Homo sapiens: one gene and its partners. The protein of the gene in region 4 interacts with the protein of the main gene of each other region in a pairwise test. Each region holds a gene or a part of one and is shown on either strand. Other genes may lie near its edges. The genes, in order: EFHC1, CNOT2, ALKBH7 and CIMIP1.

Region 1 (8,042 bases), on a different chromosome or scaffold from region 4:
AAGTGATTCTCCTGCCTCAGCCTCCCGAGTAGCTGGGATTACAGGTGTGTACCACCATGCCTGGCTAATTTTTGTATTTTTTAGCAGAGACTGGGTTTCACCATGTTGGCCAGGCTGGTCCTAAACTCCTGACCTCAAGTGATCCACCCACCTCTGCCTCCCAAAGTACTGGGATTACAGGCATGAGCCACCATGCCTGGCCTCTGTGCCTTTTAAATGGGGCCTTTAGCCCATTTATAATTAAGATTAGTGTTGATATGTGTAGATTTGATCCTGTCATTGTGTTGTTAGCTGGTTATTATGCTGGTTTGTTTGTGTGGTTGCTTTATAGTGTCACTGGTCTGTGTACTTGTGTGTTTTGTATTGGCTGGTAATGGCCTTTTCTTTCCATATTTAGTGCTCCTTTTAAGATCTCTTGTAAGGCAGGTCTGGTGGTAATGAACTCTGTCAGCATTTGCTTATCAGAAAAGGATCTTATTTCTCCTTTGCTAAGAAGCTTAGTTTGGCTAGATATGAAATTCTTGGTTGAAGATTTTTCTTCTTTAAGAATGTTGAATATAGGCCCCCAATCTCTTCTGGCTTATAGGGTTTCAGCTGAGAAGTCCAGTGTTAGCCTGATGGGGTTCCCTTTGTACGTGACCTGCCCTTTCTCTGTAGCTGCTTTTAACATTCTTTCTTTCATTTTGACCTTGGAAAATCTGATGATTATGTGGCTTGGGGATGATCTCCTTGCATAGAATCTTGCAGGGATTCTTTGTATTTCCTTAATTTGATTGTTGGCCTCTCTAGCGAGGTTGAGGAGGTTTTTGTGGACAATATCCTGAAATATGTTTTCCAAGTTGTTTGCTTTCTCACTGTCCCTTTCAGGAATGTCTGGTGAAATTTGAGCACTTGGTTTGTCTTTCCTATTTTGCTAACACGTTTTCTGGTCTAATATAACCAGTGGGTATGCTTTCTTTTTTTTCTTTTTTGGTGAGGGGAAGGGACTTAATCATATACAGTATTTGTTTTAAGTGAATTAGAAAATTGGGAATATGATTTCAGCCTAACTTGGCCATTGTGCATCTTGCCTCCAGACCTAATAGGAATTACATATTGTTTGAAACCATGGTTAGGTTCCAGATATATGAAAGTAAGCAATCCTAAGACTTACTCTGTTACAGGCACCTAACTAAATTTGATTGATTTAAATTATTTGAAAACAGTTATTTTGCCATTGTGCCTCCCAACTAGCTTAGCAAATACCTAGCAATATAACAATATAAAATACTTCAGGTAACTCTCAATTATTACCTGCATTATGGAGTTGGCTCAGTTGGAGACTTAATACAGCTTACATGCGCTCAAGCAGCAAACTAATGTTTAACTTAAGCAATGGCATAGAAATCATTATTACACTTTTTCTTTCTTTTTTTCTTTATTTGAGGCGGGGTCTTGCTGTGACGCAGGCTGGAGTGCAGTGTCATGATCATGGCTCACTGCAGCCTTGACCTCCTGAGCTCAAGCAGTCTACTCACTTCAGCCTCCTGAGTAGCCTGGACTGCAGGCAAATGCCATCAAACCAGTCTAACTTTTAAATGTTTTTGTAGAAACAGGGTCTCACTATGTTGCTCAGGCTGATTGTGAACTCCTGCGTTTCAGGAGTCCTCCTACCTCAGCCTCCCAAAGTGCTGAGATTGTAGGCCTGAGCCACAGTGCCTGGCCCATACACTTATTTTTATATAATCAGTTTATAACTTACTCTGAAAAGCTCCAAGAAAGATGATCATTGTTAACTTTCAATTATTTAGGTATTTTTAGAAAGCCAAGGAATTGAGTTAAATCCACCAGAGAAGATGGCTCTTGATCCTTACACTGAACTCCGAAAACAGCCTCTTCGTAAGTATGTCACCCCATCAGACTTTGATCAACTCAAGCAATTTCTCACCTTTGACAAACAGGTAAGTGACATAGGAACCACAATAGGCTTACTTATTTCCAAATGTGACCTACATTTATTGGCAAAAGGTTTGGGTAGCTGTATTGGTAACTATTTTGAAACATTACAGCTATAATTGAACTGTTTGGACACAGTACTGTCTTTCTGCTTTCATCAAGGGTTACAGGTACAGGAATGCCTACATTTCATATGGAGATCCAAAGAAGATCGTGGAGTTGCGGAGTTGTTTTGTGAACCTCACCAAACATTTAAATCTCAAAGCAATTCCTGAGCTACATCTGCTTCCCACCTTACGTTTCCAATTGACAATTTCTTTCCCTTAAAATGAGCTAATTTCATAGACTCCTTTGTGAAACCATAAATCGATTATTAGGAAATTTCACAAATATGCATACATGTAGGTTGTAATGTTAAAATGTTTAATTTCACAGAAGCCCCACTACAGATGCTTCCTTGTTAAATGTTATATTAATATTGGAGTCCAGAATGTTCTGAGCATTTTCCAACTCTGTTCCAACCTTCCTAATCCTCTCCCTTGTGAGCTGATGTGTATAAGCAGATTTAAATCCTTCCCTTTCTGTACTAAAGGGAGAAAGAAAAGGAAGAGATCACCCTCAGTGCTTCTTTGCTGCTCCTTTTCTTTAGACATTTAACCCCTTTTAGTTCAGAAAATGTAAACTAGCACTAGCATGGTCTTTTAAGGATTTTGTTCATATCAGTCATATATCTGTTATTATTTTGTATTTAAAGATTGTGTTTATTCCCACGATTTGAAGAAGCCTAGCCAAAAAAAAAAAAAAAAAGATTGTGTTTATATTATTGCTAGAAGATATGTGTTGATGGGACCAAAAAAAGACTGGTTAATAAATAAAAATTTTTTCTACACTAATTATATATAAACCATATTCACATGTACCTTTATTAATATATATATACCACTATGTAAAGAACTTCATTGCTCTTTTAATTTAGCTTCTCTTTCACTGACTAATATTTTGGATCAAAGTGAGCTCTTCTTTTTTGGCACAAACTTATAATCCTATTATTTAATTCTTTCCAGCTGCTGACATATAGTACATAATTTCAGATGTTTTAGTATGTTTGATGAATATTTCTTTTTTTTTCAATTTACCCCATCTGAAATTACTTCATAGTCTTTCCAGCTAGTCTTTCCATCGTTGATACATAATTGCCAAAGTAGCCAAGTTGAACTCCCTACTTTTAGGATTCTTGAGTCACTACTTTGGATTCTTCAAAGGTCCTTCGATTCTATGCAATCTGGGATGATACAGACAGCATGTATGGTGAATGTCGGACCTACATCATTCATTACTATCTTATGGATGATACGGTGGAAATTCGAGAGGTCCACGAACGGAATGATGGGAGAGATCCTTTCCCACTCCTAATGAACCGCCAGCGTGTGCCCAAAGTTTTGGTGGAAAATGCAAGTATGTTTGATTCAGTTTATTCTCTGTTACTTGGGATGTTTTTAGGTTCTTAAAGGAGTTACTTAATCAGTATGCAAAATTCGTTTATACTTGGAAGCCTCTAGCTATTTTTGCTTAGATGCTCAGAAAATGGCTTCCCACAGCTTTCCTCCTTTACTTGCCCCTCGGTCCAGGCGTGCCCCCAAGACAGTCTGGTACCCAGGTCAAGGAAACAAAACCAAAACAACAGTGGGAGATTTATTTAAAGTGCAGCAGAGCAAGGTTTCTGAACTGAAACAATTTAATATTAGATTTTTAATGCATTTTTCAAACAGGCTTGTTTTCATTCAAGGATATGAATGAAAGCTTAGCTTTTCTTTATATGCTTTCCTGACTTTGCTTCTCACTTCAACTACTTCCTAAACAGGAAGTTTCTATGTGGTTTAACTTGAGATTGGAAAAGGCATGTCTGTGACTCATAGAGGTGAGGTCCATTGTGTCAAACCCAGCTCATTCTTTACTGGTTTAAAATTACCTAGCATGGGCTGGGCATGATGGCTCACTCCTGTAATCCCAGCACTTTGGGAGACTGAGGCGGGTGGATTGCTTGAGCCCAAGAGTTTGAGACCAGCCTGGGCAACGTGATGAAACCTCCTCTCTACAAAAAATACAAAAATTAGCCATGCTTGGTGCCGCACACCTGTATTCCCAGCTACTTGGGAGGCTGAGGTGGGAGGATCATCTGAGCCTGGGAGGTCGAGGCTGCGGTGAGCTGTGATTGTGGTGCTGCACTCCAGCCTGGGCAACAGTGAGATCCTATCTCCAGAAAAAGAAAAAAAGTTACCTACCATATTTGAGAGTGGCAGTGCAACAAAATGGCAGCAAATACCTGCTGTTCACTGTTTCCTGGGATGAGTAGGCTTGCTTTAGTTATTGTCTTAGTAGTTTTTACATTTCTCTTAGAATAATGTCATCTTGGTCACATGTAATGACTGATAGCTCTTATGTTTGGGTGGCTGACAGGATTCTGTAAATGTGTTCACTGATTTTTTTTTCTTTTTACTATATTTTTTGGGAATTAGGATATAAGAAATTTCAGGTATTGGGGCTGGGCACGGTGGCTCACACCTGTAATCCCAGCACTTTGGGAGGCCAAGGCAGGTGGATCATGAAGTCAGGAGATCGAGACCATTCTAGCTAACATGGTGAAACCCCATCTCTACTAAAAATACAAAAAATTAGCTGGGCGTGGTGGCGTGCACCTGTAGTCCCAGCTACTCAGGAGGCTGAGGCAGGAGAATTGTTTGAACCCGGGAGGTGGAGGTTGTGGCGAGCCAAGATCGTGCCACTGCACTCCAGCCTGGGTGACAGAGTGAGACTCCATCTCAAAAAAAAAAAGAAAAAGAAATTTCAGGTATTGAGCAAGAAGTTTGTCTACATTAGAGGTTATAAATAAATGTGTAGTCTGAGGCTAAATTCAACGTGTCTGTACATATTGCTTCACTTGCACAGTGCTTTTTTATGAAAAATGCAGTATTATTTGTGGGCAAGGAGTTGGAGGTTTCCATCATTGAGAGAATGGATAAGCAAAAATGTAGTGAAGGTACATTTTGATTAATATACAGTAGTTAGAAGCAGTAAACAAGATGTACACAGAAAGCAAGTGGATGGATCTTAAAAACATAGTGCTGTGTAGGAAAAAATACATGAAATTAGATATATAATGCTATAACACATGCAAAACATAGTACACGTAGGACACATTCAGTCACATAGCTGCATTAGAATGATTGCATGTGAGGAGAGGAGAATGAGATTGGGGAAAAGGATAAAAGGGAGTGAAAATTGTCATCATTTTAGAATTAGGAAAGTTTATGTTATATATTTTTTTAAAAAAATGAAAATACTGCTAATTCAGCTTGTATTCTCAAATAGAAACAACTGGATCTGTGCCCTAGTTCAACATAGTTTGGCTTCTACCTACTATACATATTCTTATAATCAGTTCTCTACAGAACCGTCTTAGAGTTCAATGACAATGGGACTAATATAGTAATTTTGGCCTTTCAGAATGCTTAAACAAGCCTGAAATCCATGCAGTTCGGAGCTAACAAACATTAGATTTACAATAGATAAAGAAAATGGATAGGAATATATTCAGGGTGGCATGAAAAGTCTCACTGAAACTAAATCCCTTTAAATGACAGATTCCAGGTTTGTCTCTGCTTTATCAATGTGACCTATATTGAAAACTTAATATATAATTATCCTCTTCTATAATTTCCCAATTAAAAATTTTTTATCAAAGTTGCATGGAGAGGCAGCCTGGTGGCATATATAGGGTTCTTTTAAAAAGTAGGAAACAGGCTGGTCGCTGTGGCCGAAGCCTATAATCCCGTCACTTTGGGAGGCCAAGGTGGGAGGATCACCTGAAGTCAGGAGTTCGAGACCAGTCTGGCCAACATGGTGAAACCCCCTCTCTACTAAAAAATACAAAAATTACCTGGGCATGGTGGCAGGTGCCTGTAGTCCCAGCTACTTAGGAGGCTGAGGCAGGAGAATTGCTTGAAGCCAGGAGACAGAGGCTGCAGTGAGCGGAGATTGCGCCACTTCACTCCAGCCTGGGCAACAGAGCAAGACTCCATCTCAAAAAAAGAAAAAAGGTATCAGTCATGAGGTACAGAAAAGGCTATGTTCCCATCAGCTACATAATTCCTTTAACTAGAAGGGTAGTGTTAAAAGAATGATGTCTAATTGACTCTCAAAGGCATTTATCCAATGGGTGATTTTTATTAAATTCAATTAAACAAGAGGTAAATAATCTGCTATGGGAACCATTTCACATGCTAAATGCTATGGAGGACAAAATGTAACTCCCATTCCTAGAATCCTATCTTTCAGTCATTTCTAGTGTCATTAAGAAGACAAGGCATATAAAATACACAAAGCTGTTAAGTAATAACATGAGTATACCAGATTATCTGATTATGTAATTAGTTAAGTCATGCAGACCGAGGTCAGAAGGACAAAGGTGTGGGCCTGAAAAACTAAAGAAGTCTTTGTGGAAGAGCTGGGATTAGACTCAGATTTAGAATGGCAGAGAACAAAGAGCTCACTAGAAAGAAGAACAAGAGCAAAAGTTGGGAATTAGGAACAAGTATGGCATGTTTGGGGGCGCCCAAGAGATGGTGGCTAGGCAGAGAGTTTGTATTAGACAGTAATAGGAAATTATGGGAGTAACTTTCAGAAGTCCTCTCAACCAGGGCCTCCTTTTAAGTAGCTAAGATAAATCAAAATTATATATTTATAATGGATGGAGTTAAAATATCAGAAATTCAGAAAGTTATTTCTTCGTCAAGGGCAATTGCATATTACCAATAGGTGGCAGGTAATATCAAAACAGGACATCTTTTGACTTAACAAAAGCTTTCTACTCAGCTCTTGAACCCAAGGAACCAGGTTCTGAAAGTCTAAATATGTTAGTTATCCTTCAGACTGGCTTTCATAGTTTGATCTTGCCCTTGCCTGTTAGATGAATCTTGAACACCCCTTAGACCTTTAGTGTTCCAGAAAGTTGAATGTATTTCCTCACTTTCTGTGCATCTTTGTTGGCTCACTCAGTCATTCGAATAATATTAATCGAACATCCATATAGATGAAGGAAACACCATGCTAGGCAATGGAGATCTGAAACTACTATAAGCCCCATATCTCAAAGACTTTACAATCTGATGAGATCAACATACAGATCAATGAAATAGAACAAATTGTCCAGAAATAGATGCACACATATGAGGTCATTTGATTTTTGACAAAGGTAAAAAAGCAATTTGGTGGAGAAATGATTGTCTTTTTAACAAAAGGTGCTGGAACAATTCAATAGCCTATGCAAAAGTAAATAAATAAATAAACTTCAACCCTTACCTCACCATACATAAAAGTTAACCCCAAATGGATCATAGACCTGGGCGACAGAGTGAGACCCTGTCTCAGAGCAGGGGGAAAAAAAAAGCAAATGTAATGAAAACAAAAATTGACAATTGGGACCTAATTAAACTAAAGAGCTTGTGCATTGCAAAAGAAGCTATCAACAGAGGAAACAGCCTACAGAATGGGAGAAAATATTTGAAACAATGCATTTGACAAATGTCTAATATCCAGAATCTATAAGGAACTTAAATCAACAAGAAAAATAACAAATAACCCCATTGAAAAGTAGGCAAAGGACATGAACAGACACTTCTCAAAAGAAAACATACAAATGGACAACAAACATTTTAAAAATGCCCAACATCACTAATCATCAGAGGGATGCAATCATACCAGTCAGAATGGCTATTATTAAGTCAAAAAATAACAGATGTTGGCAAGCTTGCAGAGAAAAGGGAATGCTTATCACTGTTGGTGGGAATGTGAACTAGTTCAGCCCCTGAGGAAAACAGTTTGGAGATTTCTCCAAAAGTAGAACTACACCAATCCCATTATTGGGTATATACCCAAAAGAAAATAAATTGTTGTATCCAAAAGATACTTGTATTCATGTTTATTGCAGCACTGTTCACAATAGCAAAGACATGGAATCAACCCAGGTGCCCATCACTGGTGGATTGGATAAAGAAAATGTGTTAATGGTACATATACACCATGGAATACTATATGGCCATAAAAAATAA
Region 2 (8,042 bases), on a different chromosome or scaffold from region 4:
TATGCAACAGACAGTACAAAGAGAAGTGAAAAAGTACAAAAACCCGTTTTTTTGTTTTGAATCCCTAAACATGATACGGTTTTCAAATACTATAGATGTGATCTTAAAAAGTCTTTTGTTGGTAAGTCTCCAATGCACAAAACCAAATCTTACTTGAGAAGGTACTCAAAGTATAACTAAAGCAAAGTAGTAATAGTCAAACATGTCTCCAGTTCTATTCATAAACCTAGAACTCTTACCACACAGGTAATCAACTTATTTTATAAAGAGAGGACATATCAACCAAAATTTGCCTGGTGGCGAATCCAAGAACAATCCTTTTCTAACAACCACAACAACAAAATGTTTTAATGTGCTTTCCAAAATCAACCTGATTTTCAAGAAAACGTATCGTTTTGTGATGGGTAACAGAATCTTTGGACATAAATGCATGATGAAACACACTTATTAGAGAGAAGCCACACCTCAAGAACAAAGTGAAAATATGAAAAGGCAAATCTGAGTATACCCAGAAAGACAATTATACACAGTATCAATAAACATCTTACCTGTTCACAGTAAAAGGCTGTCGAGAAGGCTGCTGCTTTGGCATACATATTATGCTTGGCGAGCTTCTGTTGGGGCTACCTAACCCTGAACTGCTCATGCTATTTGTCCTGCTAGGAATTCCAATGCCCTGACCAACCTGGGAGTGGTTCATCATATTCCTAGGATTCATAGGCAAAATACCCCTGAAAAAGAAGTCCATTATACTAAATAAGCTCTCTACAATCACTCATTAAAATTCTCTTTAAATAATCAATTGGTCCAACCCTAGAATCTCAAATATACTTTCAAATTGCAGTTCTAATTTTTATTAATTCTTTAGTCATTCTAGCTCTTTGAAAAGAAAAAGTAAACAAACAATAAAGGGCAAATTATAGTGCAACTGATAAAAGGTGGTATCTAAGATGAGAGAACTACTGGTGTGACTGTGACATAAAATATAAATGTATTTCACACACATATTTAGAATAATTTCATTTCAATGGCATATCGTTCTATCCTCTGCATACTAAATGTATAGTCTATGTCATCTGTTTTACTTTATGCTCATTAGAGCAATGGATGTGTGGCGAGGGAGCAATGATCACAATCATCTGGGGAGGAATTTTAAATTGCACATATTCCTTTGAGGAAGACAGGTGCCTTTTGAAAAAGCTCCCCAGGAAATGATTAACCCTTGATATCCACCCCACTGACAACCAGTATGCGAGCTGCAGTATAAAAACCACTTGTACTGTACTTAACAATTTGCACTGAAATAAAAAGAGCATAGGTATTTTCTTCCTCAGTGAAAGGCACTGAACCAGAAAATCAAGTAATTAATTACCTTATTAAAAAACTAAAAGTTTGTTTACTCTACCAAGATACATTTTGAAAAATATTCTGGTCCATCAATAAATACCTGCTTGGAGATGGAGGCGTGTGAAGTGACATTGTTGGTACCCCTGTTGTTGGCGTGACGTGGCTCGGTAACTGAGTGCCTTGTGATAAGCTGCGATTTAACTGAGGGGTATTGTTGCTCATCCCCCTCATTGGAAGGCCTAGTGCACCTAATAAAAAAATTCAGAAGAAGGAAATTCATTGCCATCAGGAATGAAATTGTTATCCATCTTCTGGAGTTGGCGATTTAAGACACTTTTAATGACCTAACATAGTACGCAAATTTTAAATGGATATATTCGATTCACTCCAAATAAACTCTGATTTTAACAAAAAATATGTTCCAGTCTGAAATTTAATATTATGAATGGATATTTCTTTCATATTCCTATTTTTCATATTTCAATTTCATTATGAAGTATGTAAATGACTAACAAGTTACAATATTATGAATGGATATTGCTCTAAAATTTCTTAAAGGCCTATTTGCATATATGTACATGTGTATATACAAAGAGGCCATTATGAAATTTTGCAGTAATGTGTTTTTATGTCTTTATTCACAACTAATGTATACAGAAAGACATTTAACCCCGCTTTGCTGAAGTAGCTTTAATTTTATGTGATCCTTTAAAATTATATTTTAGAAAAAGCCAATTTACTATTTATACATATTTCTCAACATTACTGTTTTTACAAACCCAACATAAAATGCCAGCAACTGTTAAAAAAAACTCAAACTGATATAGCTATAAAAGACAAAATTTTAAAACATTTAAAAAGACGTCAAAATATAATGCCCCTGTATTTATCTAGTACCCCTGGAGCCAGGTGTGGGGATGGACTATACATTCTAATAGGTTTTTTTTTTTTTAAAGACTGCTAAGAGTTTTATCATTCTCATACGAAACAAACAAACAAAACCACTGTGGATAAACTTTTTTTAGAAATGTATATTTCCTGAGTTTTTATTCAGATCATAGGAATTATAAATTTTTTAATAATCCAGGATAATTATCATAGACAGCATACGTTTATTTTTTTCCCTTTTATGCTTCAAAGTCAAGAAGTACAGCTATCACTTACACTGTTATATCTGTCTACGAATTCCTCTCCCTTTCCTCCATCTTCCTGACCCACACTTTTTAGTGCTTTCTACTTCTAGTCTGCTTCATCAACCAAACTTATTCTGAACTGGAGATTAAATAAAAGTGATAAGATAGAGTGAGAACTAATCAGTAAGTAGATGACTTCAGTGCTAGGGATTTAAGGTGATTTTATCCTTTGGCATAATAATGTTTCACCTTCTAACCTAGGGATAGGAGTGGTTAGCGAGTATCTCACTGATCGTTATCTTAAATTTGGCAGCCTGTATCTCAGCTTGTAGACTAACTGTGCCTCTCAACTGAATGAATTTTAATCCAATCAATCTAATTCAATATAACTAATATATTCCATGTATATACTTTTCACTCAGATTCCATGGAGACCTAAGCTTGGTCCTGCCTTTCTGTAAGATACTTTAAGGGAACTGGCCTAGATTACATGTACACTTTTATGTATGTCTACAGTCACCGTAAGTTTTGTGACTATGAGAATGTCACTAGCTGAAGCCACTTTCTTTGAATCTGGGACAAAATAAGGAAGAATAAGGATTAAAAATCAGCTTGCTTAAGATTTCTTCAGAAGAAATCTGTCTTTTCCCTCCCTAAAGCACACCATTTTTCTTTGAGGCTTTCTAGGTGTGCTCCTAACAAACCATCAACATACTTTTCACATCATTCATTCAACAAACATTTAATGAATGCCTACTATGTAACACGCATTGTGCTAGCTGCTGGGGATATGGCAGTGAACACAACAGAAAAGGCCCCTACCCTCAGGGAGCTTACATTCTACTCCCTAAACATGCTGTCCTGAAGTCAACTATAGCTGCAAATTTTCCTCAGGAATGTGTTTCTCACAGTTACTGACCACCAAGATAATGTCAAACAATTTTAGAGCCGGAAGGGATCTTAAAGATCACCTAGTTCAATGTTCCCATTTTACACACAGGTAAGGAACCTGAGCCTCATGTAAGTTAACTGACTTCTCCACGGCAACACAAAGAACTAGGACTAGAATTTAGATCTCTTAGCTGCTAATGCTCTTTAATAGCAGCATGACAGGAGCCCAACAGAACTCTCGATTAGCACCTCTGTGAGTGCCTACTAATTTCAACACCTCTAATGTATTTTCCCCCTGCTTTCTTTTTCCCTTTTGAATATGTTTCCCTCAACCTTTTTTCTAAATCTCCACGTCTTGCTCTCTTCCATTTTCTTTCTCTCTCATCGTCATACCTATCAGTTTTCTTTCTTCTTGTTCTACTTTTCCTTTACTTTTCACCCTCTCTACACATTCACCACCATAAACAAACATACACTTTCCAAAAATTAGTGCCCTTTTGGCCCCCTTTTAACAATCGTTAAGCCCTACAAAAGGCTCATTGAGATTTGACTCCTTCAAGTCTCCACATACATATTATTCTATGCTGTATCATAAAAATTTATCATTTCAGGAATATTTTAGAAATTGGAAGTTATCTGACCAGCAAAAAAACAAATTTGGAGAAGAAAACAAGAATGGTAAGGCTATTTGGCCAATTAGGGATTGGCATCCTTGAACTGATTTTAGTGCTAAAACTGGACAGAGACCGTATGGAATAAAGTAACTTACTTTCAGTGTTTAATTTTAGCTTTCTAAAATTAATCTTCACAAAAACAGCTAATAAATTCAAAAAGTCTAAGTTTAATTTTGTTGAAGTAGTATAAAAAGATCAAAAAAGAATATATCACTTCAAATTGGATCATCAACCCCTGAATACTTAATAATTGTTACTTTAAATTTATTTTAAAAACTGAATTTCTTTAAAACATAAAGAATGGCACTGGAAAGGTATATATAAAGATTTGTTTTTTGGAAACTAAATATACTAAGTCATTAACTTTGAGTTGCTTGAGTCAAACTAACACAACTGAATAGGGTCAAGGGGAAAAAAATCTAATCTCTCACTAGTATAATTAGAAACAATCACAGAAAAATCATCTCTAAAATATTATGCCAAGAATAGGACATACAGCTGAAAAAAAGAAAAAAAAAGAAAAATGGGAAGAACTCAAGGAGTTTTTCTTGGCATAAAAAAACTAAAACAGGCAAAAATATAAATATGTATAAATGAGCTTGTATATGAGCAGGTGACTGGAAGGACAGTAAAATTAAAATTTATTGGGCACTTATCAACAAAGCACTATACTACTTCCTCTCAATTCCTTCTTATAATCATCTTATAAAAAAGGTTATCACCTTTTTACAAAGAATAAAAACAAATTTTAAAAAAAGTTTAAAAGGTTATAATTTTGAGTCAAATTTTTCTTTCAATCTAACAATTGATAATAACAACACAATATTAGGAGGACTATACGAACACATTCTAAATAGATTCCTACCTCTTATCTGGCAGGGTGTTAGTCAAATTCCTTATTGATCATTTTTCAGAAACCCTTAAAGAATATGATCTAAGAAATTATTCCATTAATTATTTCCACTGCACAAACTGATTAACAGCACATCACTTAAACACTTATGGCAAAATACGTCATTCTTTATTCAATTTTTTGCTAGAAATAAAAAATATTAAGTTACATGAAAAAATAAAATCATAGCAACCAAATCCCTGAATATTCATACTTAAATAAAGTCCCCTAAAATCTTTATAGGGGCAGGAGAGAGTAGTCCTTAACTGATGCCTTAAAGTGTCCCCTTTTCCATTTGCAAAGCAGCCAGCTTCCTCTAGGAACTCACTGGCATGCCCATACTAAAAAGGACAACATAAATGGTGCTTTATCTCAATGGCTTCTTACCTTCAACCTGTCTTGCACTTAGCTGGTTAATGATTCCTGTAAAATTATTTCCTTATGCAATTTTCTTCATTAAATTCAAAGTATTTTAGAATAGAAAAGACTCCAGAGATTATCCAAGTAGGTTACAGATAAAGAATTCACACTAGGCATTAAGTGACTTGCTCAAGATCACAAGTAATGAGGCATTAAAGACAATGATCCAATTTCTTGACTCCTATTTCAATGCCTTTTTTGCAACCAATATCATTTTCCATTTTTTAATGGTAGTTAATAATGTTTGCATCATCCAGGGAACTTTAATGTCTAGGTCTCCTCTCCAGCAATTGTGATTTTGGGCAATCATGGCAGTGGAATTTTAAAAATTCCCCAGGTGTTTCCATGGGTGCAGTCAGGGTTGAGAACCACTGTTCTAGAGTATTAAAATTCTGTCAAGACCCAAAGATGTTTTCTAACCTTAACAAGCATTTTACTCTGTTTACACACTACATATCTGATTTATAATCTTCTTTCTTCTTTCTCTATTCCTTTCCTCAAATCTGTCCTTTACTACTCATATCTAACTCCTCAGCAAGAATACTTTCCCTTCTCTTGTTCTAGAGATATAAAAGACTACTTAAAAATAAATAAGTGCTATGACCAAGGTGTTTACATGCAGTAGACATAGCGTGCTTGACTGCTTGTAGGAGGGACCACACTAACTCAGACTTGGGAATAGAGTGAGTCTGGAAGCAGAAAAATTTTCCTGGAGGAGACAGAAGATAGTATATGAATTAAATAACATATGAGACTCAGCCAGGTGTTTGGTGGTGGCAGTGGTGGGGAGTCAGGTGGGTATAAATGTTACAATAGTTCAGTCTGAGAGAATGACGAGATATATGAAAATGAGGACAAGTTATACACCTGGCGGAGGAACAGGCTTTGCCTTCTAGGTGCTAAGAATGTATAAGACAAGAAACATGGATGGAGCTAAGTGGCTTCCACAACTATGAGAAGTGGCTGCTGTGCTCGAATCAGCTGAGAGTCTCAACATCTGGCTGGATCTTTAGAGGAGTGCCACAGAATCTTTACCTGTGGAATAGCTGTGTGGATCTCCCAAGTACACTCTACACTTCCTCAACCTAAATTTCTGCTCTAGATTAGTGGCACTCATTCACAAAGGTTTGCAGGTCGGAAACCTTAGAAATCATTCTTGATCCCTTTCTTTCACTCCTACATCATCAAGTCCTGTTAGCTCTATCTACAAAATGTACCAAATCTGATCACTTCTCAACACCTCCACTAGTCCAAGTCATCCCATTTTTTTTTGCCTGGACTACTGCAGTATTACTAACATTCTCTCTCTCTCTCTCCATAAAAACAGGACATTTGTTATTTGCTATATTCTTATCTATATCTTGAAATAATACCTCATTCATTGTAGGCACCCAATAAATACATAATTATTAGAATGAATACATTCTATCACAATGTCTTAATTCAACAGATTCTTGGCACCTGTGGATTTAACACTGGTAGTTTCTACTATGTACAAATGGCTTTCTAGGGTCATGGCATTCAGGTATCAAAGAAACTGATGTTTTCAGCTCATGTTCACATAGTTACTCTTACAAAGTAATATAATCCTGGTTCTACTACTTACAATCTGTGTAACCTTGAACAAATTCCTTAAACTCTTGTGGAGCTGCTGTGAAGGTTAAATGAGTTAATTCACATAAATACTTAAAATCGCATCTGATACACAGTAGATAATATTCAATAAATATTAGCTCTGTGTGTGTGTGTGTGCGTGTGTCATACTTATGAAAAGAAAGCCAACAGGTGGTACCAAAAGTGAAGATAAAATAAGATAGTCTAATCAAGTGATGGTTTTCACACACACAAAAAGGATGTTTTATGGTGGAAAATGTTATTCTATAGCTGTGTTCTTGAACTTTAAAAGTAGCAATGATCTTGAAATAAATCTCTCAGAAATGTGAAGACTGTACTTCTTGCTGAAATCAATATAACAGCCTAACAGGTGTCTCCTGTCTTGATAAAGTAGGCCATTCCTAAATCTATCCCATGCTGTGGATGTTATTCCCACTGCTAAAACAACTTTACTCACAGTCTGTTCAATGCTAATCTCAAATATAATCTCATCAGTAAATTCTTTTCCTAATCATTTTCCAAGATACCTGATTACTCCTGTCTTTGAAATATCCAAATAGTCTACAGCCGTACCATCCTGAATGTGCCCTATCTCATCTGAAACATCCAAATAACCTCGAACTTCTTATTCTACTACATAGTAAAATCATTTGTGTACTTATCCTACTAGATTATATGAGACTGCTTCTTGTTCATCATGCATTCAAGATTTACTGAGTGCTTGTCATATGCGAGGTACAGAGGATACAAAGGCAATGAGGACATGCAATAAATAATGCAGCAACACCATAGCAGTAGGTACACTATGCAGAGATGGCATAAATGAGGATGATCTCTTCTACCACACATCTGCAGTATCTAGAATGGCACAACATGTATGGTAGGGACCCATAAGTATTTGTCAACTTTAATTCCTACCTGCTTTTTGAAGTTTTTCCATACCACTATAGCTTCCCTTTTTTTTTGGTTCTCCTCAAGGAGAATGGTATAGACAGAATTTGCTCCCTAAAAGTCTGTCTACACCATTCTGCACATGGTATCTTTTAATCTATGTGTTAGCATCACAGGCTG
Region 3 (7,124 bases), on a different chromosome or scaffold from region 4:
GGAGAGTTCTCGTCTGAACAGGTGGCAAAGGCTGGAGGGACCTGGCTGGGTAAGGACTTCCAGGGACCCTCTGTGACTTCCCAACTTTCCCCAGCCCTGACCCTGCTCACTGTCAGCGCCCTTCCCTCCCACAGGCACCCACCGCCCCCTTGCCCGCCTGCGCCGAGCCCTGTCTGGTCCATGCCAGCTGTGGAGCCTGACCCTGTCCGTGGCAGAGCTAGGCCTGGGCTACGCCTCAGAGGAGAAGGTCATCTTCCGCTACTGCGCCGGCAGCTGCCCCCGTGGTGCCCGCACCCAGCATGGCCTGGCGCTGGCCCGGCTGCAGGGCCAGGGCCGAGCCCACGGCGGGCCCTGCTGCCGGCCCACTCGCTACACCGACGTGGCCTTCCTCGATGACCGCCACCGCTGGCAGCGGCTGCCCCAGCTCTCGGCGGCTGCCTGCGGCTGTGGTGGCTGAGGGTGCCCGGCCTGGCACCCAGAAGCTGCAGTGCTGGGGGAGCTCGGCTGACTTATTTATTGGAGACCTGGATGCAGAGACAACGAGGAGGGGAGTGGGCTGGGGCGACCAGCAGTGAGTGCAATAAAGGACACCACTCTCCCGGCCTTGTGACTTTGACCATGTGTCCAGCCAGCCACACCTGGAGCTCCCTATGGGCCAGTGCCATCCTGGGTTCCCCTGCAAATCCCGGCCCCAGCAAGCAGCCACTGCAATGTCCCAGTTAGGCTGTCCATTCCCCAACTTTATTCACAAATCTGGTGTCTGTAGAAAGCTGGGGGTCAGCAGGCTGGGGGCGGCTGTCCAGACTCCCCTGGCCCCATGCCCTCAGGGAGGGAGCGGCAGATCACGGAGATGCGCCGGCCCCGGGGAATCCGGCGTTCCCCAAAGAAGGACTCTTCATCCCGAAGGATCTCATGGGAGAAGTCATAACGGGCTGAGCCCCTGCAGGAAGAAACAGGCTGTGACTGGGTGCAAGGAGGGCAGCCCCTGCTCCAGGCAGACCTGGATTCCAGCCTCCTGGATTCCAGCCCCCTGCTGCCTCCCACACAGACCCTGGGGTAAAGGCGTCTTCGGGGAGGGCTGGATTGAGGGAAAGTACCCAGGGCACAGGGTGGGCGGATGGCACATTCTTGGAGGGGTGGGTGCTGCCTGGATGGAGGTACCTAAGGATGTAGAGGGAGCCCGGCTCCAGCAAGAGTTCCAGCCACTCCCCCGGCTCCTGGGTGTGCACCAGCCGCATAACGCTGGGAGACAGGAGAGACAGGCCGGCGATGGTGGCCCCGCAGAACTGCAAAAGAGGCGTGGGGATGGGTCAGGATCTAACCGGGCCTGCCTACCCCCTGGCTGGGAGTGCCAAGGCACCGTCCTCTGCCCACCTTGATGCTGTCCACGTGGGGCTTGATGTAGCCGCGGGCTTCCAGGTCCAGCACGTGCACGGAGGAGAGCAGGGTCTGGCCGGGGCCAAAGGCGGCCGCCTGCACGCGCTGCAGGATGGCCCGGCTGGCTTCTGACCAGCGCGACTTCTCTGTCTCTCGGAAGCCGTGGATGGCCTGCACAGAGAGCTCGGTTAAGCCTGGGAGCTCCCAGAGGGAACAAGGAAACTGAGGCAAGGAGGGGCAGAAAACGGCAAGGGGCTGGTTTCCCTATGTGACTCTTGACCCTGCCCTCAACTCAAACTCCCCTAGCCCCTCAACTATGGCCCTACCTAGGTGTGACCTCAGTCCTTAGTACTCACCCTGAGGCTACAATTCCAGGTCCCCAATGCTGGCCCGGCCCCAGCATTCAATTGGCTGAATCTCCCTACAACTTGACCCCACCCAAGTGTCCTGTCTCTGTCTCTCAACATCATCTGGCTCCACATCCGTTTCCGCCCCTAACCTTGGTCCCAGGTCGCAAAAGTGCTCTCCCTGACCCCAAGGTCCTCATCCCCCAGGTCCCGCCCCTCCCACAGCCAGAGTTTCAGCCCAGCCCCCACCATAGCCCAGCTCCCAAATCCCTGCAATAGCTACCGACCCCAAAAAGGCCCTGCCCCATCCCAGCATGTGTCTCCCCTATCTCCGCCCCCAGCGTGGTTCTGCCCTCTCTAAACCTCGACTTCCCCGTCCCCCCCACAGCATGGCCCCAACCCATCCCGGCGCTTGACTCCACGGACCCCGCCCCAAGCTTGGCCCCGCCCCATCCATGCGCTCGACGACCTGACCACGCCCCAATCCCAGCCGCCACGTTCTTCTGCACTGTAACTGCTAGCAGCGTAATCGCACCCCAACCCTACACCCGACTCCCTGGCCCCACCCCCACGCTCGACTGCGCTGTAACCGCCCCCAAGCGTGGCCACGCCCCATCCCAGCACTGGTCCCCACTGTCCCCGCCCCCAGCGTGGCCACGCCCCGTCCCTACGCTCGCCTCCTGTCCCGCCCCCAGAGTGCCCCCGCCCCATCCCTGCGCTGTCTCCTTTGTCCCCGCCCCAGCGTGGCCCCGCCCCATCCCTGCGCCCGACCCCCCTGGCCCCACAACCCCAGCACCGTAGCCCCGCCCCCACGCTAAACGGTACTGTAACCGCCCCCAGTGTGGCCCTGCCCGGTCCCGGCGCTCGTCTCCTCTGTCCCCGCTCCAAATCCCCGCTCTAGGTACCGCCCCCAGCGTGTCCCCGCCCCATCTGATGCTCCACGTCCCCAGGCCGCGCCCCCGACGAGCCCCCGTCCCTCGCCCCCGGCGCTGCCGGTCTCACCGCGTCCCAGTGATCGTATTCGTAGCGGCGGCGGCGCAGCTCGGGCTCCAGTTCTCGGCTCAGCGTCTCCTCCTCTGCCGTGCTCAGGAAGCCAGGCCGCACCACGGCCGCGTCCTGCAGGCGGCTCAGCACGGAAGGGCCCGAGCCTCGCACCCAGCTGGGCCCTGGCAGCGTCCGCAGCGCCAGCAGCCCAGTCCCGGCCATAATCCCGGAGCGGGGTCATGAGAGAGGGCAGGGTTGGGGAACGCCCCCGCCAAAAGCCATTGGCGGTACCTGCGGCAGCGATTGACTTCCCTCAGAGTCCCGCCTCTCGCTCATAGCTATTGGTTGCTGCTAGACTCGCCTTCACAGGCTATTGGCCTTTTTCCAGAACCCGCCTCCTCTCTTGAGCTTATTGGGCGCCACCTCCCGCCTGACTTACACCAGTGGCTGAGTCGCAAGTCCGTCTGCAGCTTAGCACCGCCTCTTTAATCATTAGAAAACGTACACCCTAGGGGTTGCCTGGCCAAGACTTCATAAGGGGATATGGGCAGTATCTGGTCTGAAGTCCGGAAGTCAGGGGGACTGGGGCCAAGGCCACGGTTATGGAGTCGACTAGGGCTAGAGGTTAAGGGCAGAGTACAGTCAGGCCGAGATAAGGGTCCGGGGTCAGGGGACTGACGTCAAGGCCACGATTATGTGTGTGGTGGGGCCAGCTATCCAGAGTTAGGGCTTATGGTCAAAGGTCAGAGCGAGGTATCATTCATTTCCCCGTCTCCGTATCACTATTACTTTAGGTTTGAAAATGGCATTATGGTTGTCTTTTTGATTCCTCGGCCGGGCGTGGTGGCTCACGCCTGTAATCCCAGCACTTCGGGAGGCCGAGGCGGGTGGATCACCTGAGGTCAGGAGTTCGAGACCAGCCTGGCCAGCATGGTGAAAACCCGTCTCTACTGAAAATACAAAAAATGAGCCGAGCTTGGTGGCGCGCGTGCCTGTAATCCCAGCGACTCAGGAGGCTGAGGCAGGAGAATTGCTTGAACCCAGGAGGCGGAGGTTGCAGTGAACAGAGATCCCGCCACTGCACTCCAGCCTGGGCGACACAGCAAAACATTGTCTCAAAAAAAAAAAAAAGAGTCATCGTTTTTTACAAACGCAAACTGAAAAAAAAATATTTACAGAAAAAAGATCTCTGGGATTTGCTTCCACATAAATCCAGGCTGTGGGGGCAGGGAGGGGGCGGGTAGGGAAGAATCATCTTTGACCGTGAATTAATTGTTGAATTGGTGTGATAAGTACGTGGGGTCTCATTACCCTGTTTTCTCTACTTTTGTTTATATTTATTTTTATTTGTTTATTTTTGAGACAGAGTCTCACTCTGTCGCCCAACCTGGAGCGCAGTGGCACGATCTCAGGCCCTGAAGATTTGCAACCGCTGCCTCTGGGGTTTAAGTGATTCTCATGCCTCAGCCTCCCGAGTAGCTGGGATTACAGGCAACGAACCATCATGCCCAGCTTTTTTGTTTTGTTTGTTTTTGAGACCGAATTTCGCTCTTGTCACTCAGGCTGGAGTGCAATGGTGCGGTCTTGGCTCACTGCAACCTCTGCCTTCCGGGTTCAAGCGATTCTCCTGCCTCAGCCTCCCGAGTAGCTGGGATTACGGGAAGCTGCCACCACGCCCAACTAATTTTTGTTTTTTATTTTTTTGGTTTTTGGGTTTTTTTTTTTTTGACACACAGTCTCGCTCTGTCACCCAGGCTGAAGTGCAGTGGCGGGATCTTGGCTCACTGCAAGCTCTGCCTCCCGGGTTCACACCATTCTCCTGCCTCAGCCTCCCGAGTAGCTGGGACTACAGGCGCCTGCCACCACGCCCGGCTAATTTTTTGTATTTTTAGTAGAGACAGGGTTTCACCACATTGGCCAGGCTGATCTCAAACTCCTGATCTCAGGTGACCCGTCTGCCTCGGCCTCCCAAAGTGCTGGGATTATAGGCCTGAGCCACCATGCCCGGCCTTTATTTTATTATTTTCTCCCTCTATTGCCCAGGCTGGAGTGCAAGGGCACGATCATAGCTCACTGCAGCCTGGAACTCTTGGGCTCAGGTGATCCTCTCCCCTCAGCCTCTCAAAGCTCTGGGTACTTTTGTATGTATTTTAAATGTGCATAATGCAAACTGCAACACTGTAACTGCTGAGCGTAGCGCCCCCCCGACCCCGGCCCGAATGCTTGCATTTTGAAAAATATTGACCCCATTTCTCCCTCCAGCTACATCTGCCCCCCCACCCTCTGCTCCCCTTGATAGTGTAATTCCTCGAAAGACTTGTCTATGTCTGATATGTTTCCTCCTATCCTTTCTGGATCCACTCCAGCCTGGCTTTTGGCTCCCACAGCACCAGAAAAGGCCTGATTTAAGGCCACCAGTGACATCCACAATGCCGAATCCAATAGCCAGGTCTCAGTCTGACTGTTAATGAGCCTACATGCTGATGCCGCCTACATTTTGTTTTTTTTGAGACAGAGTCTCGCTTTGTCGCCCAGGCTGGAGTGCAGTGGCGCGATCTCCGCTCACTGCAAGCTCCGCTCACTGCAAGCTCCGCTTCCCAGGTTCACGCCATTCTGCCGCCTCAGCCTCCCGAGTAGCTGGGACTACAGGCGCCTGCCACCACGCCCAGCTAATTTTTTGTATTTTTAGTAGACACGGGGTTTCACTGTTAGCCAGGATGGTCTTGATCTCCTGACCTCGTGATCCGCCCGCCTCGGTCTCCCAGAGTGCTGGGATTACAGGCGTGAGCCACCGCGCCCGGCCGATGACACCTACGTTTTTATTTCAACCTCTTGACCCTGATGTCGAGGGACATATCAAAACATCAGGTATAATATATCCAAAATCAACTCCTGATCCCTCCCCAAGCCTGTTCCTTTGCCTACACTTCCCATCTCAGGCGACAGGTCTCCATCTTCCTGCTTTGGGCCATCAGCTCGGAGTTTCTGGAAACTGCTCTCTGTCACATCCCACCTAGCTAGAATCTGACTTTTTCTCATCACTCGGCCAGGGCTGCCATCAGCTTTCGTCTAGATTACTCCAACTATCCTAACTGCTCTCCAGTTTCTGCTCATGGTGCACTCCTCAGGAGTCATAGTCATCCTTATTTTCCTTCCTCTTCTCAAAACCCTCCATGGTTCACATCCCTCCTTTTAGATGTCAGGCCTTTTATGATCTATTCTCAATCACCTCCACTTTTTTTTTTTTGGAGACAGAATCTCGCTTTGTTGCCCAGGCTGGAGTGCAGTGGCGTGATCTTGGCTCACTGCAACCTCTGCCTCCCGGGTTCAAGTGCACCATCACGCCTGGCTAATTTTCACCTCTACTTTTTGATCTCCTCTCTTCCACCTTCCCTCAGCCACGGGCCTCCTCATAGGTCCTCACATGCCAGGTACAGTCCTGTCACAGGGCCTTTGCACTGGCTGTGCCCTCTGCCTGGACACAGGCTCCACCCCTCACCTCCTTTGAGGCTTTGCTCAACCACCACCTTCTCAGTGAGGGCTTCCCTGATTACCCCATAAAAAACTGTAACACGCTTACCCTCACACTTGCATGCCACCTTTCCTGTTTTTGTTTTTTTTTTTTTTTGAGACAGAGCCTTGCTCTGTTGCCCAGGCTAAAGGGCAGTGGCGTGATCCTGCTCACTGCAACCTCCACCTCCTAAGTTCAAGCAATTCTTCTGCCTCAGCCTCCGGAGTAGCTGGGATTACAGGTGCACCACGCTCGGCTAATTTTTGTATTTTTAGTAGAAATGGGGTTTCACCATGTTAGCCAGGATGTTCTCGATCTCCTGACCTCATGATCCGCCTGCCTCGGGCTCCCAAAGTGCTGGGATTACAGGCGTGAGCCAGCGCGCCTGGCCTGTTTTGTTTTTTTTAGTAACTGTCTACTGCCACAAGAATGGAGCTCTTTTGAGGAGGGTTTCTTGTGTCTTCTTCACAAAAGAACACTGCCTGGAATATAGGATATGATCAGGAGAATCTGTTGAAGGAAGACATGGCTTGCCTCTTGGGGTCAGGACAAAAGCAGAAGGGGCCTGTGAAACACAGATGTGTACACGCTGTCATGGTGCAGAAGGGAGGGTGTCCCAGACGCAGAGCAAAGACCACAAAGATTTAATTTAAAATCACAGTGTCTCAGCTGGAATGCCCCGTCCATAGCGGGCACCCCTGCAAATTAAAAGTTCCTCAAGAGGCCCCTCCAAGCCCAGCAACAAGGGGTGAGCAGGGCCCAGCTGGGGGTCTGGCAGGCCTCTGGCCCCTCCACATGATTCTGGAGAGGAGGCCCAGCTCTCAGGTGCTAGCTGGGACAGGTTCTGCTGCCGGCGCTGCTTCTACAGGCTCCTTCTGCACCAGCGTGGGCTCATCCTCACCGTC
Region 4 (8,179 bases):
GTTCTGTCCTGAAGTTTGAGAGGTTGCAGATTGGTGGCCACCACCCCACCAGAACCCACATAAGCATTTCATTTCTAGACTCAGAAAATTTCATGTAAACATCTGGCTTTCTGGACTCTCTTGAGTGATGGGAATATGCAGTTGGCTTTCCCATATGGTTTCACTTGGCTGGGCTCATGCTGGCTGCCTCTTTGGACAGGACCAGTGGCCTCTTTGCCTGAGTCTCCACCCCTTCTGATTAATTATGCTTGGCCCTGTCTCCTGTTTCTGTCACCTAGCTGGTCCCTGTAGACTTCTGGACTTGTCATCTTTAGGGAATACCGACAGCATTTTCCCAAGAATCCCTCATATGTCACTTGGCCTCCAGGCCAGGTGAGGTGTCCATAGCCTTCTTGTATCTGCACCTCACAGTCGCTCAGTTAGGCAGGTGAGGACTCTCATCCCACTTTACAGATGGGAAGTCTGAGGTCAGGTGGCTGTGGCATCAGACCCACCTGCTTCTCACCTGAGTAGGGTCCTTATCAGTTGTGTGACTTTGCAGGTCTTGGAGCTCAATTTCCTAATTTGTAAATGGGCATAAAACAACACCTGTCTCTGCACCGGGGTTCTTGTCCAGATTTGATCATCTGGTTCTGCCGAAGCACCTAGAACATGCCTGGCATGTGGTCAGTGCCCAGGAATCTGTGAAAGGCGGGAACCTTCTGGTTTAGGAGTTAGTGATCTTTGCCTACAACATGCTCTTTAGTTTTATTCTTGCAAGTGATAGACTTTGTAATCATTCATTCTTTGAAATGATTGATTCTGTAACCTTGGGGCTCATACAATTTATATTTACCTCCTCAAAAGGGGTTGTTAAAAACCCCCAGTTCTGGGGCCAGTTCTGCCGTGCTTCCGATTCAGCCTTCAGACGGTATTTCCTGAAAAAGAAAGTTCCTGAGTGCTGGGCAACACGGAAAAAGGTTCAAGGGGTCTGTGGGGGACATTTCCATTCTCCACGAACATTGACTGGGCAGTGGTTCTGCACCAGGGACGGAGTGAGGAGCCAGACAGCGTGAGAACCTCTGATGCTGAGCACCTCCCACCAGCAAGGGAGACACGTGGCTAACGAAAGAGAGATGCTGGTTGGCTGTTACGGCTGAGAGGGAATGCCGGGTAAGGGCCAGTCTGGGGGCCGATTCTGCCTGAGGAGCCTTCTAGGTACCAGATCTCTTATTTTGGAGGCCCTTATGACTCAAAATTTGAGGAGGTGCAAAAGTGGAGGAGGCACTCACTCCCTGCTTCCTGCAAGTGCAGAGACAGCGTCTGCATGACCTTGACGTGGAGCATTTCCTAAATATTGCAGCGCAAGTGCCTCACTTGCCCCACCCTAATCCGACCTTGCTTTTGCTCCATGCTAATATTGTTTATATCTAACTACCCATGAGCTGAGTGGCATTGCAGTAGACGAGCCCACGTGCCACATTTTGCAAACATCAAATTAAACATTCAATCGTTTTGAGTTTTCTAGTTTCTTCTATCTTGGAATCAATATCAGCATATCCCTACCCCACAGTTTCGGAGACCCTGGTCAACTCTTTGCCCTGGGCAGTGAGCATCTAAGGCAGAGTCTATTTCAATCAAGATGTAACATAAGCCACAAACATGAGCTGCATACACAATTTGAAATGTTCTAGTAACTACATTAAAAAGAACATAAGAATAAACAGGTGACAGTCTTTTTTTTTTTTTTTTTTTTTTTGATGGAGTTTCGCCTTTTTTTTGCCTAGGATGGAGTGCGATGGCACAATCTAGGTTCACTGCAACCTCCGCCTCCTGGGTTCAAGCAATTCTCCTGCCTCAGCCTCCTGAGTAGCTGGGATTACAGGTGTGTGCCACCATGCCTGGATAATTTTGTATTTTTAGTAGAGATGGGGTTTCACCATGTTGGCCAGGCTGGTCTTCAACTCCTGGCCTCGGCCTCCCAAAGTGCTGGGATTACAGGTGTGAGCCACTGCATCCGGCTGACAGTCACTTAAATAATCTTTTTTTTTTTTAAATAAATCATCGTAATTTGTCACGCAGTTTACACTTAACGGCTGAACCCAATTTGGACCAGTTACAATTTAAGTGTTAGGTAGCCAAGGGCCCTATTCAAAGAGGAGGGGTCACTTAGATTTGGGTCTTGAAGGATGAGCAGAAGTTTGTATGGTGAAGAAGAGAGGAAGGGGCATTTCAGACAGAGGGAACAGATCCTGCTGTGGCAGCATCTCCTATTGGGACACTTGGATAAAGATTTAGTAAAAAATAGTTGTGTATTTTATGCCAAATGATAAAGGTTTTCTATTTATGAGAGTGATATGAAGTTTTCCATAAAATCATCAAGTGAAAACAATTTAAAGACACATATGAAGTGACTAATAGAGGTTTTACAAGGAAATGGTAAAAATTATAGAGAGGGTAAATAGGATAACTGAAGTTTAGAAGGTAAACAAGTATGTTTTATTGTTACTACAACTTACTTATATCTAAATCTGTAAATTCCCATATGAGTTAAACTTTCAAAGAGATGCAATAATACGTAGCAGATAGCATGCCAATTAAAATATCCACGACAAATGTCTGCTAGACATACATCTTTTAGAAAATGGATGTATCTTTAAAGTTAAAATATATTACTTAAAAACCCAGGAGAATCAAGGGATTTTCATGTACTTCATTCAAATTTAACAAATATTAGGATTTTTGCTTTCTTTTTTTAAAAAAAAATTTGGCCAGGCGCGGTGACTCACGCATGCAATCCTAACACTTTGGGAGGCCGAGGCGGGTGGATCACGACGTCAGGAATTCAAGACCTGCCTGGCCAAGATGGTGAAAGCCCGTCTCTACTAAAAATACAAAAACATTAGCCGGGTGTGGTGGTGGGCGCCTGTAATCCCAGCTACTCGGGAAGCTGAGGCAGAGAATTGCTTGAACCCAGGAGGCAGAGGTTGCAGTGAGCCGAGATCGCGCCACTGCACTCCAGCCTGGAGGATAGAGCAGGACTCCATCTCAAAAAACAAACAAACAAACAAACAAAAATCATCAGTCTTAAAAACATGAACACGTTCTGGTTGGATGCTGAGATTTGAAGAAAAAAAAAAAACATGAACATGTTAGTTGGATTTCAACAAGCCAATCTCTGCTGATTGTTGAAAGCCAATCTCCCACGTCTTCGTGGTGGGCCCAACAGGAGAGGGAGAAGGAGACGGAGAAAGGCCCTCCTGTCGCTCTCATGTCCCTAACATTGACCCCTTTCCTCAAGGCCCCTGACCATCCTCAGCGCACGCCCCTCTGCCCCTCGAGTTTAGTGGTCGATCACTTCCCGGACTTGGTGGGGAAACTGAGACCCCAGATGTGGACACTTCAGGTGAGAACAGGAGCCCACCGCGTTGCCCGATCCCAGGCGTTACCAGATCTCATCCTGACCCACAAGGTTCATGCGTTCAGCCGCCGCGGTGCTGAGAGGTTTCTGCGCCATGAGGCCTGGGGGCTCTGTGCGCCCCGCAAGCTCTGGCCCTGGGCTCAGCGTCTCGCGTCTCCTGGGAGACCGGTTGCCAGGCAACGCAGGACTCGGAGGCGGAAATGGCTCTGCACCTGGCGAGGGTGGGGTCGCTGTGCTTTCGCCGCGTCGCTTGGGTCCGGGCTTGCTGCCATCCTTTGCTCACGTCTGGGCCCTTTGTCCACCTCTAGGCCCATTTGCTCATCTGTGGAAAACCTTGGGGAAACCTCCAGACCTAACACCCTAGACTTCTTTGAAAGTTTAAATCCGCAGTGGAAGTATGCACACCTACGAGTGGACAGACGCTCAAGTGTACAGAGCTTAATTGAGTATGTCAAAGAGAGGACTCGCCTGTAACCGTCACCTGGAGATTAGAAAACAAAGCATTGCCAGCCTCCCCCAGTGGCCCCCAGGGTCACCGTCCTCCCTGGCTCTCATTGACTTCCCTCTGCAAAGATTAGCTTTGCTGTGATTTGAACTTTGTGTGAGTGGAACCATCCAGATGTTCTCCTTTGTGCCTGGCTGCCTTTGCCCAGTGTCATGATTGAGAGAGCATCCCCGTTGCTGTGAGTGGCCCTAGCGTCCATTTCTGCTCCTGAACAGTATTTGCTGATGGGCGTTGCATTGAGTTTTTGGCCACCACAAAAGTGCTGCTAAAATATTACTGCACATGTCTTTGGAGAAAATATGCGTTTTGGTTGGCGTCCACTCTTTGTAACAATCCCTAAATGAAATTCACGGATAATGTTACCTCCAGACCCCACCACCCCACACTCTTTTTCCCTGCCTATAGGCAGTAATCACTCTATCGCTGGGGTGCTCAGCCAGTGTTTTTTGACTGATTCATTGACCCCCTAGGTTTCTACCATACCCCCATTGTTGTGGACCCAGAGCTGGAAAATGGCTCTGAGACAACAGCAAGGGGATCATCTACACGATGTAGGAGGACATTTTTCTGGCTGAGCAGCCATGAGATGAGCAGGTGTCCAGAGCCTGCCTCGGGGGACTGAGAGAGGAGGAAGCATGACTCAGTTGAGCTACAGGTCACCTCCTAGATAATTACCAGGGCACTGGTCTGGGAGGATGCCAGTGTGTGTATCCACCAGTTAGGTATCTGAGACTCTCCCTAGTCCATCTCCATGGCCTCTTCCCTTATCAACAGATTTGTACTTATGTGTGGTGTTTAGAGGGGAGCTCAGCTAGTGTGTTTTCCCTTCATAGCACATGGTGCTTTTCTTGGCTGTTGGAAATGCCTGGCCCACGCCCAGTATTAGGGTGGTCCCAACTGTCCCTCAGCTGGATTAGTGAGTGGGCAAGCAGAGGCTGGCATCGGAGCTGAATTGATTAATTAATGAATATATAACATCCCAGGTCCACGGCTGAGCCAACTGCAAGCTAGTGGGCTAGCAAGAGGGTGGACAGATCTCTAGGCAGGAAGCTGGGATTTTCTTCCTGGACTGTTCTCCAAGGTCTCCATTCTTACAACAGAGGGGAAGATATTCTGGGAGGAAATAAGTGGATGGCTAGGAAGAAAGATCCATTATGTAGTAAGAACAAATTCTGCTTTCCTCCTTGGGAGGTTTTGAGACATTTCTGTTAAGATGATTAATTAAGACTAAATTCATTAACAGTGCCAGACATCGAGGGTTCCTTCATCCTATGGACGTGTGTTGAGAGCTTTTGATGTGTCTGGTGCCAGGAGGGAGTCAGACCTGCAAGGTCTCTGCTTCCCTGGAGCTGGCACATCGAGTGGGAAGACAGATAATGAAGCCAGGAAACAAATGCACGTGTGACCTGGTGCCAGGGAGAGAGGCATGACGTGCTAGGAAGAGAGTCACACCAGGGCATGAGGCCAGTGGGGGCAGGGACAGGCCAGGGGCTGTGGGGCTGTGTTAAACAGGCGGTCAGGGCAGGTCTCTCTGAGGAGGAGACATGTGGGTGCAGATCTGGTGTGGAAGATCAGAAGAATTTCCCACAGAGCGGGTGGTGTGGAGTATAGTTCCCGAGGCAGGAGCAGCATGGGGTGTTTGAAGAATGCAAAGGGGGCCGGTGCAGCTGGAGGGTTCCATGGAAATGAAATGGGTGCAGAAATGGAGAAGCAGGCACTATGCGTCCCCCAGGAGTTCAATCTAGCAGGTAAGCAGATGTGAATGCAACTAAATGATAACGCAGCCTTATATACGAAATGACATAGGGTATATGTGATTCAGAGCCAGCCCCAGATGAGACAGAAGAGGACAGAGGAGGTGATGAGTGAGTTGGGTTTTCAAGGATGAATAAGAGTTTGCTAGTCTTCTCCATTCTCCTTGGCAATATCTGCACGGGGTAGCCTGGGTCCAGGACTAGAAATGGGTAGAGTACCGGATAAATGTCTGGGTTTTGGGATCCGACGTAGCTCAGGTCTCGGGTTTGCTGTGTGCCATCTCAGTGACCTTGTGCATATTGCTTAACAACTCTGAGCCCCCATTTCCTCATCTGGAAAAGGGGATCATGACTACACCTCCCAATTTTAGGGATCTGCAGAGGCTGAGAGGAGCAAAGGCAGAGAGCTCTGCGGGAGCCTGACAGCGGGGCTCCCAAACAATGGAGGGCTTCACTCCTGGTTTATCACATTTGTTGTCAGCGTGCAGGCAGTTCCCTCAATCTAAGACACTACGATTTGGGGGAAGGCGTGGGGAGATGGAAATGTGGCTTTGGGTGGAAGTGGGGTTTGCTTCTTGAGGATGACAGTGTTGAAGGAGAGGCTGTGGATGGCCGGTGGCTGGAGGCTGTCCCCAGGGAAGGCTGGGTTCCCCTTTCTCAAGAGGTGAGAGAGGACCCAGAGCTGCACTCACCAGGGACTGCTCCTCTGGGCTCTGCCCTGAGTCTGAGGCTGTCCTGGTCACCCTCAGGGCACCAGCATTCCCCAGCCCCCGTGGGGCACTTCCCTGCATGCTCTGATTTGATGGTGAGATGGTCTGGATCTGTATTCCCTGCAAGTCTTATGTTGAATTCTAATCCCCAGTGTTGGAGGTGGGGCCTGATAGGAGGTAATTGGATCATGGGGGTGAATTTCTCATGAATGGTTTGGCACCTTCCCCTGGGTATTGTCATTGCGATCACGAGTGAGTTCCCGCGAGATCTGGTTGTTTAAAAGTGTGTGGCCCCTCCCCCGGCCCTTGCTCCTGATCTGGTCTGTGATGTACTTACTTCCCCTTTGCCTTCTGCTGTGATTGCAGCTTCCTGAGGCCTCCCCAGAAGCCAAGCAGATGCCAGCATTATACTTCTTGTACAGCCTGCAAAACTGAGCCAATGAAACCTCTTTTCTTTATAAATTACCCAGTCTCAGGGATTTCTTTGTAGCAATGTGAGAATGATCTCATACAGATGGTCACAGCAACCCCTTGCAGAGGGCTTTGTGACCATTTTGCAGAAGGGAGAACTGGCTCAGTGAGGAACCCTGGCCTTGGAGGGCAGCTCTTCTTCCTTCCTTCCTAGGGGCAGAACTCCTGAGGAAGATGGGGAGCAGACATTTCTGAGTCTTCCTCTCTCTCGTAACCAGGGAAGATGGCTTTATCTTCCGAGATGACTTTCAAGGCTGAAGCATGGCTGTGAATCTCAGCAGTACGTGAGGGTTGAGGAAGCAGTGCAGGTCCAGCTTTTTCTGAGGTGGTGTCTGTAAAAGGCAAAGTTTCCCCTTTTGGCAGCACTGTTGGGGTCACATAGAACCTGCCATATGTCACTACAGCTGACACGCAGACTTAGACACCCTGAGACGCCCACCTCCTGGGTCTCCCCTGAGACTCCTTCCTTGTTTCAACCAACTATGAACGGACCCACAAGCTCGCTCTGTCCAATCAGGATGTGCGTTATCAATCCTTCGTTAGCAGAACCACCAGGAGCCCCTCTTCCAACCACTGAAATGCCTCTCCCACTCAGCGGTATGGCCCGATTCAGCAAATAAAAATACAGGATGCCCAGTTAAACTCAAGTTTGCATGGGGGTGTACTGTACTTCTACTGAGAAATCACTCGATTCAAATTGATCTGGGCATCTTGAACCTTCGGTGCCACCCCACCCTCAGTGAGTTTCTTCACTGGTCCGTGCCCCATGCTCGGCAAGTTAAGACATTCACATACATCAAACTCTATTTTTAGTTTTAAGCTCTGGTGGTCTTTTTCTTTGTTTTGTATATCCTCCTCCATTTTCCTCGCTCTGGGGGTTGAAACCCCCTCCCTCTGATATATGAAACCAATTCATGAGTCCCTGGCAGACACAATTTCTTCAACCTAATATATTTTTTTTTTCTGGCAAAATTGTTATTCCACATAGATTTCCAACAGGAAGAGTGGAGAGAGAAAAAGAACTGCCGTACTTGCTGACTACACGTGGGAAACTAGGAAAATATTTACAGCTTGTAGAAGGTTCGCCATGTTCCCGTGTATTAATATTTTTGGCCCTCTCTCAGTTCTCTGGGACAGTTTATTTTTTATTTTTTTCATTTTGCTGTTGCTTTATAAAACATGTCGACAACTGGAGCCAACCGCTTCTTTTTTAGTTTTTAAGCTTAAACAGCTTTCTTTTTTATTTTATGATTTTTTTTTTAAACCAAAGAATGCTTTGTGCCATGAGTGGTTTCTGCCAGCCTGCATGCCTTTCTCACAGCACGGGTGATCATTACCT

The links.
Region 1: the proteins of CIMIP1 (region 4) and EFHC1 interact in binary tests that used the Homo sapiens proteins (3 or more experiments, as listed by UniProt).
Region 2: the proteins of CIMIP1 (region 4) and CNOT2 interact in binary tests that used the Homo sapiens proteins (3 or more experiments, as listed by UniProt).
Region 3: the proteins of CIMIP1 (region 4) and ALKBH7 interact in binary tests that used the Homo sapiens proteins (3 or more experiments, as listed by UniProt).

What each region holds. Positions count from the first base shown.
Region 1 is NC_000006.12:52,450,898-52,458,939, forward strand, and holds part of EFHC1 (EF-hand domain-containing protein 1), read left to right. Parts: intron 1-1,790; coding exon 1,791-1,940; exon of another isoform or gene 1,941-3,197; coding exon 3,198-3,390; intron 3,391-8,042. UniProt on the Homo sapiens protein: Microtubule inner protein (MIP) part of the dynein-decorated doublet microtubules (DMTs) in cilia axoneme, which is required for motile cilia beating.
Region 2 is NC_000012.12:70,322,976-70,331,017, reverse strand, and holds part of CNOT2 (CCR4-NOT transcription complex subunit 2), read right to left. Parts: intron 1,596-8,042; coding exon 1,448-1,595; intron 732-1,447; coding exon 549-731; intron 1-548. UniProt on the Homo sapiens protein: Component of the CCR4-NOT complex which is one of the major cellular mRNA deadenylases and is linked to various cellular processes including bulk mRNA degradation, miRNA-mediated repression, translational repression during translational initiation and general transcription regulation.
Region 3 is NC_000019.10:6,368,627-6,375,750, reverse strand, and holds ALKBH7 (alpha-ketoglutarate-dependent dioxygenase alkB homolog 7, mitochondrial precursor), read right to left. Parts: upstream 2,958-7,124; 5' UTR 2,931-2,957; coding exon 2,727-2,930; intron 1,947-2,726; exon of another isoform or gene 1,860-1,946; coding exon of another isoform or gene 1,734-1,859; intron 1,549-1,733; coding exon 1,375-1,548; intron 1,287-1,374; coding exon 1,162-1,286; intron 941-1,161; coding exon 778-940; 3' UTR 501-777; downstream 1-500. Other genes in the region: PSPN (persephin preproprotein), read left to right, coding at 1-49, 135-457; CLPP (ATP-dependent Clp protease proteolytic subunit, mitochondrial), read right to left, coding at 7,041-7,124.
Region 4 is NC_000020.11:58,146,282-58,154,460, reverse strand, and holds the start of CIMIP1 (ciliary microtubule inner protein 1), read right to left. Parts: upstream 3,560-8,179; 5' UTR 3,497-3,559; coding exon 3,429-3,496; intron 918-3,428; coding exon 836-917; intron 1-835.